Regions from separate parts of the Homo sapiens genome. Here all the other regions are linked to region 3. The links come from fine-mapping of genetic effects on gene expression. A gene starts in region 3. Each other region holds a variant in brackets. All regions are shown on one strand. Distances are from middle to middle.

The links. PIP is the estimated chance that this variant, and not a neighbour inherited with it, causes the effect. A credible set is the group of variants that fine-mapping cannot tell apart.
Region 1: its variant is the best candidate, but not a certain one, in a credible set for the expression of E2F6 in subcutaneous fat (GTEx, PIP 0.76).
Region 2: its variant is the best candidate, but not a certain one, in a credible set for the expression of E2F6 in whole blood (TOPMed, PIP 0.85).

What each region holds. Positions count from the first base shown.
Region 1 is chr2:11,437,565-11,444,232 of GRCh38, forward strand. No RefSeq gene overlaps it. Among named protein-coding and RNA genes, the nearest start is that of E2F6, 25 kb to the right of the region's middle. The variant T/G (reference allele first, on the strand shown) is at 2,879.
Region 2 is chr2:11,416,323-11,422,990 of GRCh38, forward strand. It overlaps LOC105373429 (a long non-coding RNA gene), which reads left to right. Exons shown (of 4, transcript XR_001739285.2): 3 at 4,849-4,944; 4 at 5,188-5,715. Among named protein-coding and RNA genes, the nearest start is that of LINC00570, 26 kb to the left of the region's middle. The variant C/A (reference allele first, on the strand shown) is at 3,746.
Region 3 is chr2:11,463,186-11,469,853 of GRCh38, forward strand. It overlaps E2F6 (E2F transcription factor 6), which reads right to left and starts at 2,976. Exons shown (of 7, transcript NM_198256.4): 1 at 2,587-2,976. The coding sequence starts at 2,694. RefSeq lists enhancers at 2,170-2,727, 2,728-3,284, 3,712-3,791.

The sequences.
Region 1 (6,668 bases), 26 kb before region 3:
AGACTGCTAGTTGTCCCCAGACATATTAGTTAAGATGGGCTAAGTCATGTTGCAGTAAAAATTAACTTCAAATAAATCTCAGTGCTTTGATACAGTTCATGTTGCATGTAGATTGGCAGAGGCTCCATTCCCATTCAGTCTCTGAGGGATCCACGTCAGTGGAGGCTGCAGTGCCTTGTAGCTACATCTGGAACCTGTGGCTTCCTTGGCTGCCTTGGCAGGGGAGAGCTACTGGAGACTATAATCTTGTCACCACGTGTCACCTCCCGTCATAGCCAACTGGCTAGAACACACCAGATGGCCTCACTAATAGGTTCCATCTTTTGGTTCCCAGAAGGGGAGGGGAACCAGAACTTGATAGACACTTGAGTATCTACCATATCCAGTTCCTATTCTTCCCTTCTTGAATAGCAACAGAATTCTCGGTCGTTAGCTGGGCACGTGGCTGTCCCTCCCTCCTCTAAACACGACATTTCTAAGTCTAAGTGGCTAAACTGTGACCAATGGATGTCAGTTAAAAGTGTGGTCACAACCTGCTGGAAGTGTCCTTAAGGACAGGAATTGTACCCTTCTTCTCCTTCTTCATCCTTCCTGCTGGCTAGCATGTAAATAATACGTACTATTATGGGGTGGGCTCCAGCAGCTCCCTTGGATTTTGAAGTGACCTTGGGAATGGAAGCCAAGCATGAAGAACCAATACCTGGAAGGGGCCTTGGTTCCTGACCTCTTGGAGAACAATACCAACTCGGGACTGTCTCCTTCCTAAATGTGTGAGAGAAATAAACTTCTGTCTTGTTTAAGCCACCGTTGTGTGTTGTGTGCAGCTGAATTTAATCCTTACTAATATGGAGCCCCAGTGTAAAGTCTGTTCCGGATTCTTTTCTCAATAAGTAATATCCCTCTTCCCCTTCCATGGTCGGAATCAACTGATAGACATAAAAAGATAGAGGTAAAAATCTCCCTGCTATTACTAATAAAGCTGATGGGGATGTGGCTTTAGATTGGTGAGCAAAAGGGCTAGTTAGCACTTCCTCTTGAAATGGACAGATTATCTGCCTCTGTTACTGACCTAACTTAGGTCTCTTGGCCTCAGCACCATTGGCACGCTGGACCAGGTGACCGTCGCTGGGTTTATCCTGTACACTAGGTTTAGCAGCATCCCGTCCTCCACTCCTAGATGCCAACAGCACTCCAGTCATGATAATCAAAACTGTCTCCAGACATTGCCCAGTGTCCTCTGGGGAACAAAATGTCCCCAGCTGAGAACAACTGGCATAACTGAACAATTGCAGGAGCCCCCCTCAGGTCAATCTAGATGCGTATCTCCACAGGCAGGAAATTCCCGAACAGAGGAAAGCCAAAGTCACCAAGCCTTTCATGTCCAGTTCCCTTTTCCATACTCAGAGAAGCCACCCGCTTTGCTTCTAAAAGAGTGACTGAGGGAGTAGCAGAGGCCAACAGTGTCACTCTAATCCAGGTTCCTCTACACGGAAGCCTAATGCTAGCGTAGTTCTGAAAATGCTCCCTTCTTTTGTCATTAGCCCTGTGTACAGAGATTCATTTTTCCTGACAGCCTAAATTTTCACAAACATTAGCTAGAAATAATGTGAATGGTTGGATACAATTACCTTCATTCGAAATAAAAGAATGGGAACTAGAAAGGCTCAATGAGCAAGAATAAAGACATTGGGTCCAGCACTATATTTTTTTAAGGGTGGCTGGCCACTGCTTTGAGTCCATGTGTTTATCCTGAGAGTCACTGTGGGTGTTTGGAGAAAGGAGGGAGTGTATAGTGTGGGGGTGTGCACACAGGCCCCTCTTCAGCTCTCTCAAGAGGAGAGCTGCCTGTAGTTACAAGCCCTTGGATCCTTGGATAGAATAAGCTCGGGCCTCAGCACCTCCTTAAACTCTAAAACATTAAACACCCCACAAAGCTTTTGTTTATATATGTATTATACTGACTGATATGTAAAGTATTGCACATTAAAACTAGGAAATTATATAAGTATTGCAAATTAAAACTAGGAAATTATATAAGTATTTAATCCATCTAAAAATAAAAATAGTAAACACAATACATGTTAAATATTTTTATGGAAAAAACTATGTTTTCCAAGACAAAAACAATTTAGTGAAGATGACACTATTTTACATTTCACAAATCTCTTAAAGTCTGGCCTAATAGAAGACAGATGGATTTTCCCGTCAGCTTGTGTGAATTCTGCTGTGATACGTTTTGGTTTACATACATAAAGAAAAGCCCAGCCTCATATAAATACGTAGTTGGAAAATGGAAAGTTGTTTTAATAGCCTCTTCAGATCCCAAAGGCCATCCTTCCTTGAAACTACATCAGAACTCGCCAAGTGGTAGCTTCAAGGTGAGTTGCAACCCTCCACCTCTGGGCGCCTTGCCTTCGAGACCTGTGGTCTGGGGCTGCTCCTCCGGCTGCGGTGACGGCCACCTTGCCTGACCCATGCCTTGGCTTTGGAGACTCGCATCTCCCAGGCCATACTGTCACTCTTCATCACTTCTCCCACTGCTTCTCCTTTATACTGTGTCCCCCTTTCTTCTCTCCCTGTCCTGTCATCCTGGCTCTTTCCTCCTTTTGTTTTTTGCTCCTTTCTTTACCTTCTCTCAGCAGATCTTCCCTTGCTTCTCTGGGCCCTCGCCTCCTGTCCTCTGAAGGCCAGGCTGAAAGCCCCAAACATCATCCCTTTCCCACCTGACTGGAGTGACAATAGGGCCTAAGGCCAACAAGGCACCAGGTCTGTCTTTAGCAGTCAGAGAAACTACAAAAGCAAAACATAAAGCCAGGAGAAGGCACTGCCTTAATCTGCAGCTAACGCCTGGCAAGGCCGGGGTGCACCGCTTGGAGGG[T/G]GGGGTAAGCCAATCCTAATAGAATCAAAAAGCCAACTTCGAAACACTGTAATACAATGGGTTGCTTTTAATGACCCAGGTGGTTTTATTCTGATTTTCATTTTTAATTATGTTAATCGAGTGGCCCATTTCTGAGATATGAAGAAACAGTTTCATGTATGAAAGTGAAACGCTGGTTCTGTCTTAAGCCCCTCAAGCCCTCAGCAGCACCATCATTCACTTGCTAACCTTGGGCATTCACTTGACTCCGCCAATACATGCATCCCTGGGGCCAAAACCATCAAAAGGGAGGCACAAAAGGAGTCATAGCTGTCTCAAGTACAGGGGGGCTCATCTTTTGCTGAGGCAAAGGACAATTAGTTAGATGTGCTTTAACTTTTAGCAAAATGCAAATTTGGCAATCTTTTTTTCATTACAAATTCCGTTAGTTACTGAAGTCATCGTTTTTTTTTTATTTTTTATTTATTTATTTATTTTTTTAACTTTAGATGGAGTCTCGCTCTGTTGCCAGGCTGGAACGCAGTGGTGCAATCTCGGCTCACTGCAACCTCTACCTCCCAGGTTCAGGTGATTCTTCTGCCTCAGCCTCCTGAGTAGCTGGGACGACTGGTGCGTGCCACCAGGTCCGGCTAATTTTTGTATTTTTAGTACAGATGGGTTTCACCATGTTGGCTAGGATGGTCTTGATCTCTTGACCTTGTGACCTGCCTGCCTCAGCCTCCCAAAGTGCTGGGATTACAGGCGTGAGCCACCACGCTCGGCCTGAAGTCATCTTTTAAAAAAAATTCTCAGGGCCAGGTGTGGTGGCTCATGTCTGTAATCCCAGCACTTTGGGAGGCAGAGGCAGGCAGATCACTTGAGGTCAGGAGTTCGAGACCAGCCTGGCCAACGTGGTGAAATCCCACCTCTACTAAAAAAACACAAAAATTAGCCAGCTGTGGTGGCCCATGCCTGAAATCCCAGCTACTCTGGAGTCTGAGGCACGAGAATCACTTGAACCTGGGAGGCAGAGGTTGCAGTGAGCTGAGATCATACCACTGCACTCCAGCCTGTGTGACAGAGTGAGACTCCGTTACAAAAAAAAAAAAAAATTTCTTGGGAGTTGGGTCGAATGATGTAGTCAGGTCAGGTCACTTACCAACCAGCAACAACTTACTGAACATTGTATTAGTCCATTCTCATGCTGCTAATAAAGACATACCCAAGACTGGGTAATTTATAAAGGAAAGAGGTTTAATTGACTCACAGTTCAGCATGGCTGAGGCCTCAGGAAACTTACAATCATGGTGGAAGGGGAAGCAAACATGTCCTTCTTCACATAGTGGCAGGAGAGAGAAGAATGAGAGCCGATCCAAGGGGGAAGCCCCTTACAAAAGCATCGGATCTTGTGAGAACTTACTATCACGAGAACAGGATGGAGGAAACAGCCCCCATGATTCAATTTTCTCCATCTGGTCCCTCCCACAACATGTGGGGATTATGGGAACTATAATTCAAGATGAGATTGGGGTGAGAACACAGCCAAACCATATCATTCTGTCCCTGGCCCCTCCCAAATCTCATGTCCTCATAATTCCAAACATAACCCTGCCCTTCCAACAGTCACCCAAAGTCTTAGCTCATTCCAGCATTAACTCAAAACTCCAAGTCCAAAGTCTCATCTCAGACAAGGCAAGTCCCTTCCACCTATGGGCCTGTAAAACCAAAAGCAAGTTAGTTACTTCCTAGATACAATGGGGGTACAGGGATTGGGTAAATACACCCATTCCAAATGGGAGAAATTGGCCAAAACAAAGAGGCTACGGGTGCCATGCAAGTCCGAAATCCAATACGGCAGTCATTAAACCTTAAAGTTCCAAAATGATCTCCTTTGACTCCGTGTCTCCCATCCAGGTGATGTTGATGCAAGAGGTGGGCTCCCATGGCCTTGGGCAGCCCCACTCCTGTGGCTTTGCAGGGTATACCCCCACCCCCACCTTGGTTACTTTCACAGGCTGGTGTTGAGTGTCTGGGACTCTTCCGGGTGCACAGTGCAAGCTACCATTCTGGGGTCTGGAGGACGGTGGCCCTGTTCTCACAGCTCCACCAGGCAGTGCACCAATCGGGACTCTGTGTGGGGGATCCAACCCCGTATTTCCCTTCCACACTGCCCTAGCAGAGGTTCTCCAGAGAGCGAACTTCTGCCTGGACATCCAGGTGTTTCCATACATCCTCTGAAATCTAGGCAGAGGTTCCCAGACCTTAATTCTTGACTTCTGTGCACCCATAGGCCCAACACCATGTGTAAGCCAAGGCTTGGGGCTTGCACCCTCTGAAGCAACAGCCTGAGCTTTATGTTGGTCCCTTTTAGCCAAGGCTGGAGCTGAAGAAGCTAGGATGCAGGGCACCATGTCCCAATGCAGCATAGAGCGGGGGGTGGGGGGGGGGCCCTTATAGGCCCCCAGGCTTGTGATAGGAGGGGCTGCTGGAAGGTCTCTGACATGCCCTGGAGACATCTTCCCCATTCTCTTGGTGATTAACATTTGACGTTACTTATGCAAATTTCTGCAGCCAGCTTAAATTTCTCCCCAGAAAATGGAGTTTTCTTTTCTATCCCATCATCAGGCTGCAAAATTTTCCAAACTTTTATGCTCTGCTTCCTCTCGAACACTTTGCTGCTTAGAAATTTCTTCTGCCAGATACCCTAACTCATCTCTCTCAAAGTTCCATGCATCTCTACGGCAGAGGCAAAATGCTACCAGTCTCTTTCCATAGCAAGAGTGACCTTTACTCCCGCTTCCAATAGGTTCTTCATCTCCATCTTGACCACTTCAGCCTGGACTTCACTGTCCATATCACTATCAGCAATTTGTCAAAGCTATTCAACAAGTCTCTAGGAAGTTCTAAATGTTTCCCACATTTTCCTGTCTTCTTCTGAACCCTCCAAACTGTTCCAACCTCTGCCTGTTACTCAGTTCCAAAGTTGCTTCCACATTTTTGGGTATCTTTACAGCAGCACCCCACTCTCTGTGGTACCAATTTACTGTATTAGTCCATTCTCAAACTGCTAACAAAGACATACCCAAGGCTGGGTAATTTATAATGGAAACAGATTTAATTGACTCATAGTTCAGCATGGCTGGCTCAGGAAACTTACAATCATGGTGGAAGAGGAAGCAAATACGTCTTTCTTCATATGGTGGCAGGAGGGAGAATGAGAGCCGAGCGAAGGGAAAAGCCCTCTATTAAACCATTAGATCTCGTGAGAACTTACTATCACGAGAACAGGATGTAGGGAAACAGCTCCCATGATTCAGTTATCTCCACCTGGTCCCTCCCACGACACATGGGGATTATGGGAACTGCAATTCAAAATGAGATTTGGGTGGGGACACAGCCAAACCCTATCATACACTACATTAATATGAGAAATACCTATTAAGACATGAGCTTACACTCTGACAACATGGAATGGCAGCTGGGAACGTAGCCGCAGCAACTTATGAGGAAGGAAGATGGCCACCTGCGTGCTGTGTATAAACTGCATGCAGGGTAGGAGTAAAGGGGAGGCATGGGTGAAGCCAGGTCCAGAATAGGGATGCGATTTTGAAACACAGAGAACAGGAAGAGGATAGGATAAGAGCAAAGGCAGGGAGATGGGAAAGTTCACTGTGTGCTTCAGGTAGCGATGAGACCAATTTACTGGGGTGAAGGTCTGCAAGGCAGGTACCAAGGCAGGATTGGTAAGCAAGCCTTGGGCCCTTCTATATCCAGAGTCTGCACTTCGGCCTGAAGGAAACACGGATCGCTC
Region 2 (6,668 bases), 47 kb before region 3:
CAGCTGGGAAGACTTAATGGCTAAGAGTGACTCAAGAGCTGGGGGTTGGAATCCCAGGAGACATCACCACTTACTGTCTGGTGGTTGATCTGGCTGTTGGGCGGAACCTCACTCAGCCAGGGCTGTTGATTAGGGAACCCACATGTGGCCTTTCCAGAAGGCCTGGGCTTCCTCACAGTGTGGAGGTTCAAGGTAGTGGTACTTTTCATACGGAGACTCATGGCTCCAAAAGCATGAGCCCCAAGGAACAGGGAAGAAACTGCATTGCCTTTTTTTTTTTTTTTTTTTCTTTTTGAGATGGAGTCTCACACTCTCGCCCAGGCTGGAGTGCAATGGCGCGATCTCGGCTCACTGCAAGCTCCACCTCCCGGGTTCACGCCATTCTCCTGCCTCAGCCTCCCGAGTACCTGGGACTACAGGCACCCACCACCACGCCCAGCTAATTTTTTGCATTTTTAGTAGAGATGAAGTTTCACCATGTTAGCCAGGATGGTCTCGATCTCCTGACCCTGTGATCCACCCACCTCAGCCTCCCAAAGTGCTGGGATTACAGGCGTGAGGCACCGCGCCCGGCCATTGCCTTTTTTAAGGTAGCCTCAGAGAGCATCACTTCTGCACATTCTATCAGTTGCAAGCAAGTCCCAAGCCTGCCTAGATTCAAGGATCCAGGACATAGACCCTGCCTCTTGATGGAAGGGTGGCAAGGTCACATTGTAGGAGAAGATGTGGGATGGGAGATATTGCCACAGTCATCTATGGAAAATACCATCTGCCATTCTAGTGAGGATGTGTCACCTCTGGGCTTTACTAACATTAGTGAAGGGACGTGCTCATCTGCCAAATGCCGTTAAAGTATTGCTGGGGCTGTAGCTCATGGCCAGTTACAGCTGCTTGGGTTTGAATCAGATCTCTCAACCAACCAACCAACCAACCAACCAATGCAGGAACCAGCCTATCTACAGCAATACCCTCTAAGAGTCAAATACTGGGCCAAGAGCCAAGTATGAATTAAAAAGGCCCCTACCCTCAAGGATCACCTGAATCTTAAATGTTAGTGTACATAGAGCTAGCTGGAGTAAAAGTTTAAACTACAGATGCCTGTCTGCCTTCCTTCATTCTAATTCAGTTGTCAGTTCCAGCTGGAGCACAGGAATCTGCGTTGTAACAAGCCCGTAGGTGGTTCTAGCATAAGAGATCCGAGGGGGGCACTTTGAGACTCACTGATCAGCAGAACTAGTGCTTTGAGACTGGGCATGGTGGCTCACACCTGTAATCTTAACACTTTGGGAGGCTGAAGCAGGTGGGTCACTTCAGGTCAGGAGTTCAAGACCAGCCTGGTCAACGTGGTGAAGCCCCGTCTCTACTAAAAATATAAAAATTAGCCAGGCATGGTGGCACACACCTGTAATTCCAGCTACTCAGGAGGCTGAGGTGGAAGGATCGCTTGAACCTGGGAGGTGGAGTTTGCAATAAGCCAAGATCATGCCATTGCACTCCGGCCTGGGCAACAGAGTGAGACTCTGTCTCAAAAAACAAAACAAAACAAAACAAAACAAAACAAAACAAAACAAAACAAAACAAAACAAAAAAAACTAGTGCTTTGGTCCAGAGAGTGAGCTTGGGTGCTTTTCATAAGTCATTAGCTTTCAGTTTGCCTGGCTTCTCTCCTTGAATCTTACTAGCTGTGGTAGGTTAGATTGTTGTGCCCGTTTTTGATTTATAGCCCGGCAGCCTCAAAACCATCCTTTTTGCCTGCTAGTGAAAATGAATCTGGGCCTTTTACATATTTTTTTTCTTCGCTAGCTGGCACAATTTTAAGCTTTGTCAGTAGAGGGCGCTAGAGAGATGCTGCAGACGAAAAACGGTTTGCTTCCTGGTTCCCACAGGCTTGACCCGCAGCCTGCTTTAAGGAGTGGCTTCTCCAGTGAACAGCTCCTAGAGCACACATAGCTTCTCAAGCACACAGCTCCTGCACAAACTGTGGTGCATCTATGCAGTGGAAAATTATTCAGCAACAAAAAAATGAGCTATCGAGCCACAAAAAGACATGGAAGAATCTTAAATGCATATTGCTAAGTTAAAGAAGCCAGTCTGAAAAGGTTACAATTGCATATCATTCTGGAAAAGGCAAAACTAGAGAGACAGTAAAAAGACCAGTGGTTGCCAGGAGTTAGGGGTAGGGAAGGGGAGATCAATAGGTGAAGCACAGGGGATTTTTAGGGTGGTGAAACTATTAGGTGTGATACTGTAGTGGTAGATACAAGACGTCATGCACTCAGCAAAACCTGTAGAGATGTACAACAGAAAGAGTGAATCCGAATGGAAACTATAGACTTAATAATAATGCATTAATGTCAGGTCATCAATTGCAACAGGTGTACTACATCAATTCAAGATGTCATTAATAGTAGGGGAAACTGTGCACAGAAAGAGGGGGTTATAATGGGAATTTTGTACTTTGCATCATTTTTCTGTAAACCTAAAACTACTCTAAAAATATAATCTATTTTTAAAAGTCATTGAAGGCAAAAATAAAAGGTTCAGCAAACACTGATTTTAGAATTTTAGGTCCCCCTCCTACAATTCTGCCTAGAGTATTTGATTATTTCTTTTCATATTTACAGTGGCACAAAGGGAAAATAATGGACACTTTATGTTTTACCTAAGACATTTTGCAGTTCTACATAGATACTCACATTTCATTTTCATTTTTATTTATTTATTTTTTTGAGACAGAGTCTTGCTCTGTTACCTAGGCTGGAGTGCAGTGGCGCAATCTTGGCTCACTGCAACCTCTGCCTCCTGGGTTCAAGCGATTTTTGTGCCTCAGCCTCCCGAGTAGCTGGGATTACAGGTGTGCACCTCCATGCCTGGCTAATATTTTGTATTTTTAGTAGAGACAGGGTTTCTCCATGTTGGCCAGGCTGGTCTCAAACTCCTGACCTCAAGTGATCTGCCTGCCTCAGCCTCCCAAAGTGCTGGGATTACAGACGTGAGCCATCATGCCTGGCCTTTTTTTTTTTTTAATCATATTCAACTCATCCATTCAAAATGCTGATGTATCAGCCAGGCACGGTGGCTCACACCTGTAATCCCAGCACTTTGGGAGGCCGAGGCTGGCGATCACCTGAGGTTAGGAGTTCAAGGCCAGCCTAGCCAACACAGTGAAACCCCATCTCTACTAAAAAACAAACAAAAAATATAAAAAAATTAGCCAGGTGTGGTGGTTCACGCCTGTAGTTCCAGCTACTCGGGAGGCTGAGGCAGGAGAATCACTTGAATTTGGGAGGCAGAAGTTACAGTGAGCTGAGATCGGGCCACTGCACTCCAGCCTGGGTGACAGAGTGAGACTCTGCCTCAAAAAACAGAAAAGAAAAAAAAAAGCGATCAATGTTTTCACTTTGTAAGCCATGGTTTTATGTACAGGGTGTACTAAAAAATCCTCATAGGAAAAGGAGAGTCCGTGGAAAAACTAAATTCTCCCTTTCAGATTTGTCCACTGTGTGGTAGTGGCAACAGCAATTTCTGAAAGAAAGGTCTTGGATAGCACTGCCAAGTTGCAGCTTCATAAACTATCAAGTGAGCTGTTTTCTGTGAGGACAACTCGCACACTTGCTATCACCATACACAGTGAGCTACTAAAGATACCGCAGCTCTCAGGGCTGACTTCAAGCGGATATGAGAATGCGACACAGCTGATTGCCTGCTCCAAGTCCCAAATTGGAAACATGAGCTTGCCCACATA[C/A]GACATTCCAACTAACTCGACAAATGAATCCTCAAATGCTCCTCACGATCATTTGTTTTAAAAAGCTCAAGTGATTTTTCATTGTCTCAGACTGCTGCTGTGGAAGGCTGCCTATTGGAAAAAAAAAAACAAAAAACAAGGACAGAATCAAATGGAATATTTCCTAAGGCAGGGAGGAAAGAACAAAGTATTAAAAAGGACAAGAAGTCCCACTGCTGTAACAGAGATAGAGATTCCTGATCAAGAAGCCACATTTTTAGGAAAGTGGGATGTGCCGTTTTATTTTTAAAATGAGATGCAATCAATGACACACGCTGTACAGCATGTATTCTGTGTACTAGCCTCTCCCCTGGTTTCACATTATTTTCCTACCCTTATTTACCCTTTGCCCCAGTTTTCTTACTCTTTGAGAAAATACTGTATCTTTTCATAAGATGTTGGAAATCCTATTTGATACATTGTGAAGTGAAAATAAGTAGAAAATGCTATATTTTGAGCATTAATGATAACTTTCTAAATTTGCTGCAACGGATTATTTTTGGTGACTCTACTTAAAATACCTCAAATCAAATTCCTTACTTGAGTATAAGCATAAATATTCCAGATTTCTGAAATCAAGATTTAAAGAGTTATTCCAGCATACATGTATATACATACACATCCATGTAACTTTCATGAGACATGTATTACAAGCTGTTCGAACTACCGTTCCAGAGGTTCACTGACCAACGAAAATAACCTTAGTAGTGAAGTACAAAACCAAATCCAGAAAGCAGTCCAGGGGTTTAGTCAGATTGCTTCTTCTCACCGAGCAGCGTCATACAGTATGTATTCCTACCCATGCACACTGGTCAAGGGAAGAAAGAAGTGGTCAGTAGTAGGAGGAATGGGCTTAGGTAGTGATATGGTTTGGATTTGTGTCCCTGCCCAAATCTCGTGTCGAACTGTAATCCCCAGCGTTGGAAGTGGGGCCTGGTGGGAGGTGATGGGATCGTGGGGGCAGATTTTCCCCTTGCTGTTCTCATGATAGTGACTGAGTGCTTACGAGATCTGGTTGTTTACAAGTATGTACTGCCTCCTTCGCTCTCTTCCTCTTGCTCCAGCCATGTAAAATGTGCCTCCTTCGTCTTCTCATTCTGCCATGATTGTAAGTTTCCTGAGGTCTCCCCAGCCACGCTTCCTGAACAGCCTGCGGAACGGTGAGCCAACTAAACCTCTTTTCTTTATAAATTACCCAGCCTCAGGTCATTCCTTATAGCAATGCAACAAGGACAAACTAATCCAGGTGGTATGGTCATCATGAGTTAATGTTTGCCTGTTTGCCCCAACTGCTGAAGAGCTGTCTGACAATTAAGACCATCTCTAGTAACTACAGCACGAGCTGAAAGAATTTCACACCTCAAATTCCATAGCCTGACAAGGGGTCACCTTCATTTTTAAAGGGAATATGGCTTGTGAACCGTACTGTCTGGGGTCCGAATCCTGGCTCTAGTATTTCCCAGTTGTGGAGTTTTGGGCAAGCATGCCCTCATCCTCCTGAGCCTCAGCAACGACACTTATCTGACAAGGTAACACAAACATTAACTGTTTCTCCTAGTCCAGGGGCCGGCACCTGGTATGGGCTCAATAAATGGCAGTCATTATTATGAGTAGATAATTATAACAATAATAAAGTGTTAGAAAATTCATGAAAGTACAAGAGGCTTGAAATTTCTATAAACCACTCCCCAAACATGATATAATGTTTACCTACAACCCAGTTTTTCCTTTTGCACCAAATAAAATCCAGCTGTGCAGCTGAGAGGCAATGAAATTGAGAATGATTCTAAATTGTTGTAAATATATTTTCAAAGGATTGTAAATATATTTTCAAAGTTAAATGTAAAATGAGAGCCTGTTTGTAGACAACTGAGTTGGCTTGTGATGACATTTTTTACTAAAGCTGTCAGAGGATCTGAAAGAATTTTGCAAAGTACTGGACATGATGTTCAGCTTCTTTAGAAAGCTGATGAGCACTAAGCAATATGTTGCCTTGTTGTAAATAGCAAATCAGTGTCATGGTCTTTACTCTCCTTCACCAGATTATGTGATCGAATAAGTAACCACATGTTAGGTGGAAACAAATTGTAAAAGGCTTTTAACTAAGCAACGTTTCAATATTTGTTTGTTTTTTTGAGACGGTCTCTCTCTGTCACCCAGGCTGGAGTGCAGTGGTGCGATTATAGCTCACGGCAGCCTTGATCTTCTGGGCTCAAGTGATCCTCCCACCTCAGCCACCCGAAGTGCTGGTATTACAGGCGTGAGCCCCCATGCCCAGCTTCAATATTTCTTTTAAGTGTGGTTTGTTTTTTTCACTGCCAACACATTTTTATCTTAATGTTACCACCCAAGTCAACCAGAAGTCATTTAAGAAATAGCTGGTGTAGAAAATAATTTTGCAAAATGAGAAATCAGTTCAAAGGCTGGATTCCAAACTGGCATGAGCCTGTCCCCAGTGTTGGTGTCTCGTCTCCATGTGGTCTTTTGCCAACTCATCTGCTTTTGCCCCCGACCTGCCCTTGGGCAGAATCCAGTGCAGATCCTCATGCATTTAGGAAGGGTGTCTGAAGGCTTACTCAGCAGCCACCAGTCATCATGTCTTTTCTATTTTCTATTACCACATTCAGTTACAAACAGGTACACAAATATGAAGAGAAATGGAGGGCAAGGGACGTAAGATGGTGCATGTTTCTCCTGCCCTGGTAAAACGTCTTCTCTGGCAATATTATCTCCGTTGGTAGAATGGTTGCCTGTGACAGGAAGAGGTCGTGGGGGTAGGCAGAGCAGGGTAAGGTTTTAAACAAATTCTTTTTTGCAATATTTACTGATTATTTTATTTTTTCTCCATTGAAGAGACTCTTTTTTCTTTTTTTGCTCTATTCAG
Region 3 (6,668 bases):
GAATTGTGTGGGTCCACTTAGAGACCAATTTTCTTTACCCGCTGCCACCCCTTAGAGAGCAAAACCAGCTCCTCCTCTTACTCTTGTTCATCAGCCCACTTAGTGTGAAGACAAGGATGAAGACCTTTACGATGACCTAATTCCCCCGAAGGAGTAGGATTTTCTCTTATTTATGATTTTCTTAATAACATTTTCTTTTCTTTAGCTACTTTACTATAAGAAAACAGTAACTAATACATATAAATACAAAATATGTGTCAATTAACTGTTTACGGTATCAGTAAGGCTTCCAGCAAACAGTAAAGTTTTGGGGGAATCAAAGTTATATTCAGATTTTGAATTTCATGGGATTTGGTGCCCCAATCCCTGAGTCGTTCAATGATCAAATGTAGATGGTAACAGAAGTCATGGGAGGAGTGAATGAACTCCCCTAAGAAGAATGTGTAGAGACGGTAGAAGAGAACCCTGAATAATACCAACATGTGGCCAGCTGCAGAGGCTCACGCCTGTAATCCCAGCACTTTGGGGAGCTGAGGTGAGAGGACTGCTTGAGCCCAGGAGTTCAAGACCAGCCTGGGCCCCATAGGAAGACTCCCATCTCTAAAAATAAAAATAATTAGCCAGGTGTGGTGGCATGTGCCTGTGGTCTCAGCTACTTGGGAGTTGGAGGCAGAAGGATCACTTGAGCCTGGGAGGTAAGGCTGCAGTGAGCCATGATGTGCCACTGCACTCCAGCCAGGGTGACAGAGTGAGATCCTGCACCGGGGGGGGGGACAAAAACAAAAACAGAAAAACAAATCAACATGAAGGAATGGGAAGAGGATGAGGACAAGGAGAAGCCAGAGAAGCAGATGGAGCATCAAACGTCAAGGAAGCTCAAGGGAGGGTTTCTAACACGAGTGTTGTAGTCAAAACTACAACAGCTGCTGGAATTGACGAGCTTGTCGGTGACCTTGGTTAGAATGGTCTTACAAGTGTGCTTAGGATAGGGGTCCCCAGCAGTGGGTTGGCTGGTAATAAGAGGCCATCAAGTGGAAACAGTGAGTGTAAATAACCTTTTCAAGAAGTTTAGCTGTGAAAGCACTTTGGGAGGCTGAGGCGGGTGGATCACGAGGTCAGGAGATTGAGACCATCCTGGCTTACACGGTGAAACCCCATCTCTACTAAAAATACAAAAAAAAATTAGCCGTGCGTGGTGGCGGGTGCCTGTAGTCCCAGCTACTCAGGAGGCTGAGGCAGGAAAATGGCGTGAACTCGGGAGGCGGAGCTTGCAGTGAACCGAGATCAGGCCACTGCACTCCAGCCTGGGTGACAGAGCAAGACTTCGTCACCAAAAAAAAAAAAAAAAAAAAAAAGTTTAGCTGTGAAGAGGAAGAGAGACAGTAGATGGGAGGGGATATGGAATCAAGGGAGAGATCTTTTAAGATGGGGATGGATTTAGAATGCGGTTTTAGTAGTCAAGAATTTATCATCTGGAGTTAGACATTTGGAGCTTCAACCCAAGTTTCTACACTTATTATCCAGCCACAGGCAAGCCGGCGTTACATGCATCTCCAAGTCTGTTTTGGCAACCGTGAAACAAGAATAATAATCTTTTAGTATTATAAAACACTGCTGTGAGAAATGAGAAATTAAATGAGGCAATAATCACAAACTATTTGGTAGGGGAACCAGGCATAATGACTTGGGAAAATGTTTAATTACTACTAGTTATAGAAAGAAAGCAGCAGAGAAATTGAAAATACGGGGAGAGGTCGGGCTCGGTGGATCACCTGAGGTCGTCAGGAGTTCGAGACCAGCCTGGCCAACACGGCGAAATCCCGTCTCTACTAAAAATACAAAATTAGCTGGGTGTGGTGGCGCATGCCTGTGATCCCAGCTACATGGGAGGCTGAAGCAGGAGAATCTCTTGAACCTGGGAGGTGGGGGTTGCAGTGAGCTGAGATTGCGCCATTGCACTCCAGCCTGGGGAACAAAAGTAAAACTCAATCTCAAAAAAAAAAAAAAAAAAGAAAAAAAAGAAAGAAAAGAAAAAGAAAATGCATTTGTTGAGGGCCCTGATAACCGCGGGGAATACAGCATCTGGTCCTGAACAAGAGAAGAAATCAGCCTTTGCAGGAAAGGGAGCCAAATTTCCTAACCATTTTCTCTGTCAAACAGGTGGGGAGATAATTTGATGAATGGGAGCTGTGGCGTGGGAAATATAAAGCGTGGACAAGGTTTTAAACGGCTGCAGTAGAGCAGAAGGATGGGAGAGGAGGCAGAAAAACAAATGATAGGTTGCAGAGATACAGCTAGAGTCCATAGAAGGAGATAAACATGGACTCTCTAATGCAAAGTTGAGCAATTTTCTCCAACAGTGCTCTGAAGTTCCGATGTAAAAGCCTAGAAGACTGATACCACGTCTGTGAGCAGATGCTGAAAGCAGAAGGCGGGAGAGCGCAGTTCGCAGCACGTGATGGGCAGCGCCTGGCCCAGGGGGAGCAGACGACCCAGACGACGGCCAGCGGGGTTGGCGGCGGCGCGGGGAGGAGGGGGCCGGATTTGGGAGACCACCGCCCGTCCCCGTCCCGTCCCGGAGCTTACCAGCAGGCCCTCCACGTTGATGGGGTCTCGGCACCGACGGCGAACCGTCTCCTCCGTCGGGTCCAGGAGGAGACTGGGTAACTTCCTCGCCGGCCGCTGCTGACTCATGCTGCCCGGCCGGGCGTCCTGCTCCCCTCGCACCCCACGAGCTCTCCCGCCCTCTCGCGCTCAGCTCGAGCACCGCCCCCCACGCGCCGATTTCCAAGGGCCCAGCACCTAAGGGGTCCGCGGCTTCCTCCGAGGCGCCGCCCGGCTAGGCCGTCCCGCCCGCCAGTAAACGCGGCACGGCCTCACGTGCCCGGGAGCTCCCGACGCAGACGGAAAAAGAGGAGGGAGACCCGCGGATCTCAAGTCGCCCGGCCCGCCATCTTCCCGCATGCGCAGTACACCGCCCCCCTCTGCGCATGCCCGCCGCTGCCGGAGCGCTCCCACGCACCGATCCTCTCCCGGCGGCTGCCGCCCGGGAAACCCGGACCGCGGAATCCACGGAGAGGCTGGCAAAGGAAAAGGAAGAGGTGGAGCCGAATTCCAGAGGAAGGGAACAGGGGTGAGAGAAAAGAGGCAACCGGGAAAACCCAGCGGTCGCCTGGAATTCTCGACGGTGATAACTGAAAGTTCTGAGGTGATAACTGAAAGTTCTGAGCCGCAGAGATGTTCATTTATTCCTTTTTTTTATTTTAATTTTTTTTTTGGTCGCCCAGGCTGGAGTGCAGTGGCGTGGTCAGGGCTCACTGCAGCCTTGAATTCCCGGGCTCAAGCGATCCTCCACCTCAGCCTCCCAAGTAGCTGGGACTACATGCGCGCGCCACTGTGCCTGGCTAATTTTTAATTTTAATTTTAGTAGAGACAGGGTCTCAGTATATTGCCCCGGCTGGTCCTGAACTCTGGGGCTCAAGCCGTCCTCCCACCTTGGCCTCTCAAGTGCTGGGATTATAGGCGTGAGCTACCACACCCAGCCTTCATTTATTCGTGAGCTCTGTTAGCGCATCTTACAGGCAGGTCAGTGTTGATGCTTAGTAAATGTGAGCAACCACACCATTGTGGAATCGTTTTACCTCTGCCTGCCCGCCTGCCTGCCTGCCTGCCTTCCTTCCTTCCTTCCTTCCTTCCTTCCTTCCTCCTTCCTGTTTGACGAATGAGTTATCGTTGACCTATAGTGTCAGATATTGGGGTGGGCACAGGCGATACTTATTCGTTTGAATATGCCACGGGTTCAACCTCCAATTTCAGTGGGGACAGATAAGTAAACAGAGCATGTTAATTTAGCTGGAGCCAGAAGGTGTGTTTTCAAGTCCTGGCTGCCTCTACGTATAAACTAGAAGACCTTATTAAGCCAGTTACTTAATCTGTCTGTGCCTCAGTTTCCTTATTTGGAAAATGCAAATAATGACAATACTTACCTGATAAGGTTGTTGTGAGGATTAAATGGATTAATGGATACAGGTTGCTGTGATTAGAACAGAGGCCAGCACATGTTTGAAATAAAAAGGCAACACACCGTGGTATGTACAGAGTTGGAGGGAAACAACTGGTTAGACTGGGGGTTTCTACACAGCCTGAGGTGGGCGAGGTGAGGCAGGGAAAAATCCCCGAAGAAGCTGGTTCCCCACTAGACTGTGAGGTCAGAGGCCTTCTCTAATCTTTTTTTTTTTTTTTCTGTCACCCAGGCTGGAGGGCAGTGTCACGGTCATAATTCACTGTAGCGTCAAACTCCTGGCCTCAAGTGATCTCCCAGCTAAGACTCCCAAGTAGCTGAGAGTACAGGTGCATGCCACCATGCCTGGCTAATTTTTTTTTATGTTTTATTTTATTTTATTTTTTGAACTCCTTACCTTAAGCAATCCTCCTGCCTCAGCCTCCCAAGGTGCTGGAGTTATAGGCGTGAGACACCCATGCCTGGCTTCTAATCTTTGTATCTCTATCATCTAGCAAAGTGTCTGGCAAATAAAACATGCTCTATTAATGTTTGCTAAATAAACGATGAGAAAAAAAGAGAACGTAGCGGAGGTCTCGAGAAGACTGCATATTGTTGCAGAATGGAGAATTTCCCAGAGCCGTTAGAAATGGCCATTTGAAGGCATTTATTCAGCATCTGCTATGTGTTTGGCATTCCACATGCATTTGCTTATGTAAATCTCATATCAAAACTGAAAGATAGGTATTTTTCTGCCCAATTTGCAGATCAGCAAAATTAAGATCAGCAGGATTACAAAAATTTACTCAAGGTCCTAGTAGGCAGTGGTAGAGGCAGGCTTTGACTCCACAACTGATTAATTAATTTGGCATTCAGATCTTTAGGAAGATTCTTCAAGGACGACTAGATTCTCTACAACCAGAGTTGGGGTTGGGCAAGTAAAGGTGGGGTGTGGATCAGGACGGAGTAGCAAGTGGTCCAGGCTAAAGAAAGAGCATGAGCACAGAGCTGGGGAGAGTCGGGGAAATGGCACAATCCTCACACTTATTGTGCCTGTGACCTGGCTTTTCCCCAAGACATAATCTTTTGCACATTTTTTTTTTTGAAGCATCTCTCATGGGCCAAGCAGTAGGGTAGGTGTTGAGGGAAGAACTGAATCTGATGGGGCCTTACCTTGTGTTCCAGGGGCTACTAGCCTGGGGGAGATACATAAGCAGAAAGCATAAGTACTAAATTAGAGTGTGTCTAACACACAATAGCAGCACAGCAGAGGAAGAAAAAATAATAACTGAATTAGTTGTAAACTACAGGTGCTTTTCCACATCTGCCTGTGAGGCAGCTATTTCAAGAATACTTTATAGAAGGCCGGGCATGGTGGCTCACACCTATAATCTCAGCACTTTGGGAGGCTGAGGCAGGAGGCTCACTTGATTGAGGTCAGGAGTTTGAGACCAGCCTGACCATCATGGCGCAACCCTGTCTCTTCTATAAATACAAAAATTAGCCGGGCGTGGTGGCAGGCGACTGTAATCCCAGCTACTAAGGAGGCTGAGGCAAGAGAATCGCTTGAACTTGGGAGGTAGAGGTTGCAGTGAGCTAAGATCATGCCACTGCACTCCAGCCTGGGTGACACAGCAAGACCCTGTCTCAAAAAAAAAAAAAAAAAAAAAATATATATATATATATATATATATGAGGGTACAGAGGCTCAGAGAAGTTTGTTCCAGGTTGGGTACTCAAATACCAGGACTTTGGCCACTACATCCTTGGCTTTGTCCACCATGGCCTTACATTGATATACAGTCACAGTTCTGAGCACAGAAATTCTGGTATTTCCCAGTTCCAGCCCTGTTTTTGTGTATGCTTCCTGGGGCAAAATGGTGCTAGGGCAGAATGGGGCATGGGCTTTGGGACTTTCAAGTTAGGGCTGAAGACTATACTTCCCAGGGATCATTTTTAAAGTTAGGGCTGAAATATTAGGCCAACTGCACAGGTGTGCTTGAGCAATCCTGAAAGCCCTCATCTGTCAGAAGATATTTTACTTCCCTTCTACTTGAAAATGTCCTCTCCAGAGGTCCGTGAGGAAATGACCATATCCACTAGGGCTTTCTGTGATGATGGAAATGTTCCACATTGTTCCATATGGTGGCCACTGCCCCATGTGGCCACTGGCACCTGAAATAAGGCTGGTGTGTCTGAGGAAGTGAATTTCAATTTAATTTAATTTAATATAATTTGTAATTTAAATAGCCACATAAGTAGTTGCTACCATATTGGATAGCCCAGGCAAAGAAACTAAAATTGTAGATATCATTGAGTCCAGTTGCTATGGTCAGAAGGTTTGTGTTCCCTCAAAATTCACATGTTGAAACCTAATCTCCAATGTGATCATATTCGGACATGGGGCCTTTGGGAGGTGATTAGGTCGTGAGGAAAGATTGCCCAGGAGTGGGATTAGTGCCTAAGCCAAAGGGAAGAGCCAAGCTGAGAACCGCATCATGCAAACCTGCCTCCCATTCTGTTCCTAAATAAGATAGCTACAACGTTAAAAAGCTACATGCTTCCTCCACATTTTCCCCACAGGAAATTCCCTGTGGGCCCCAAGATCTTTACCCTAAAATAGTTCTGTTGAATTTCACCCGGACAATGTAGATTGACAGCTTATCTT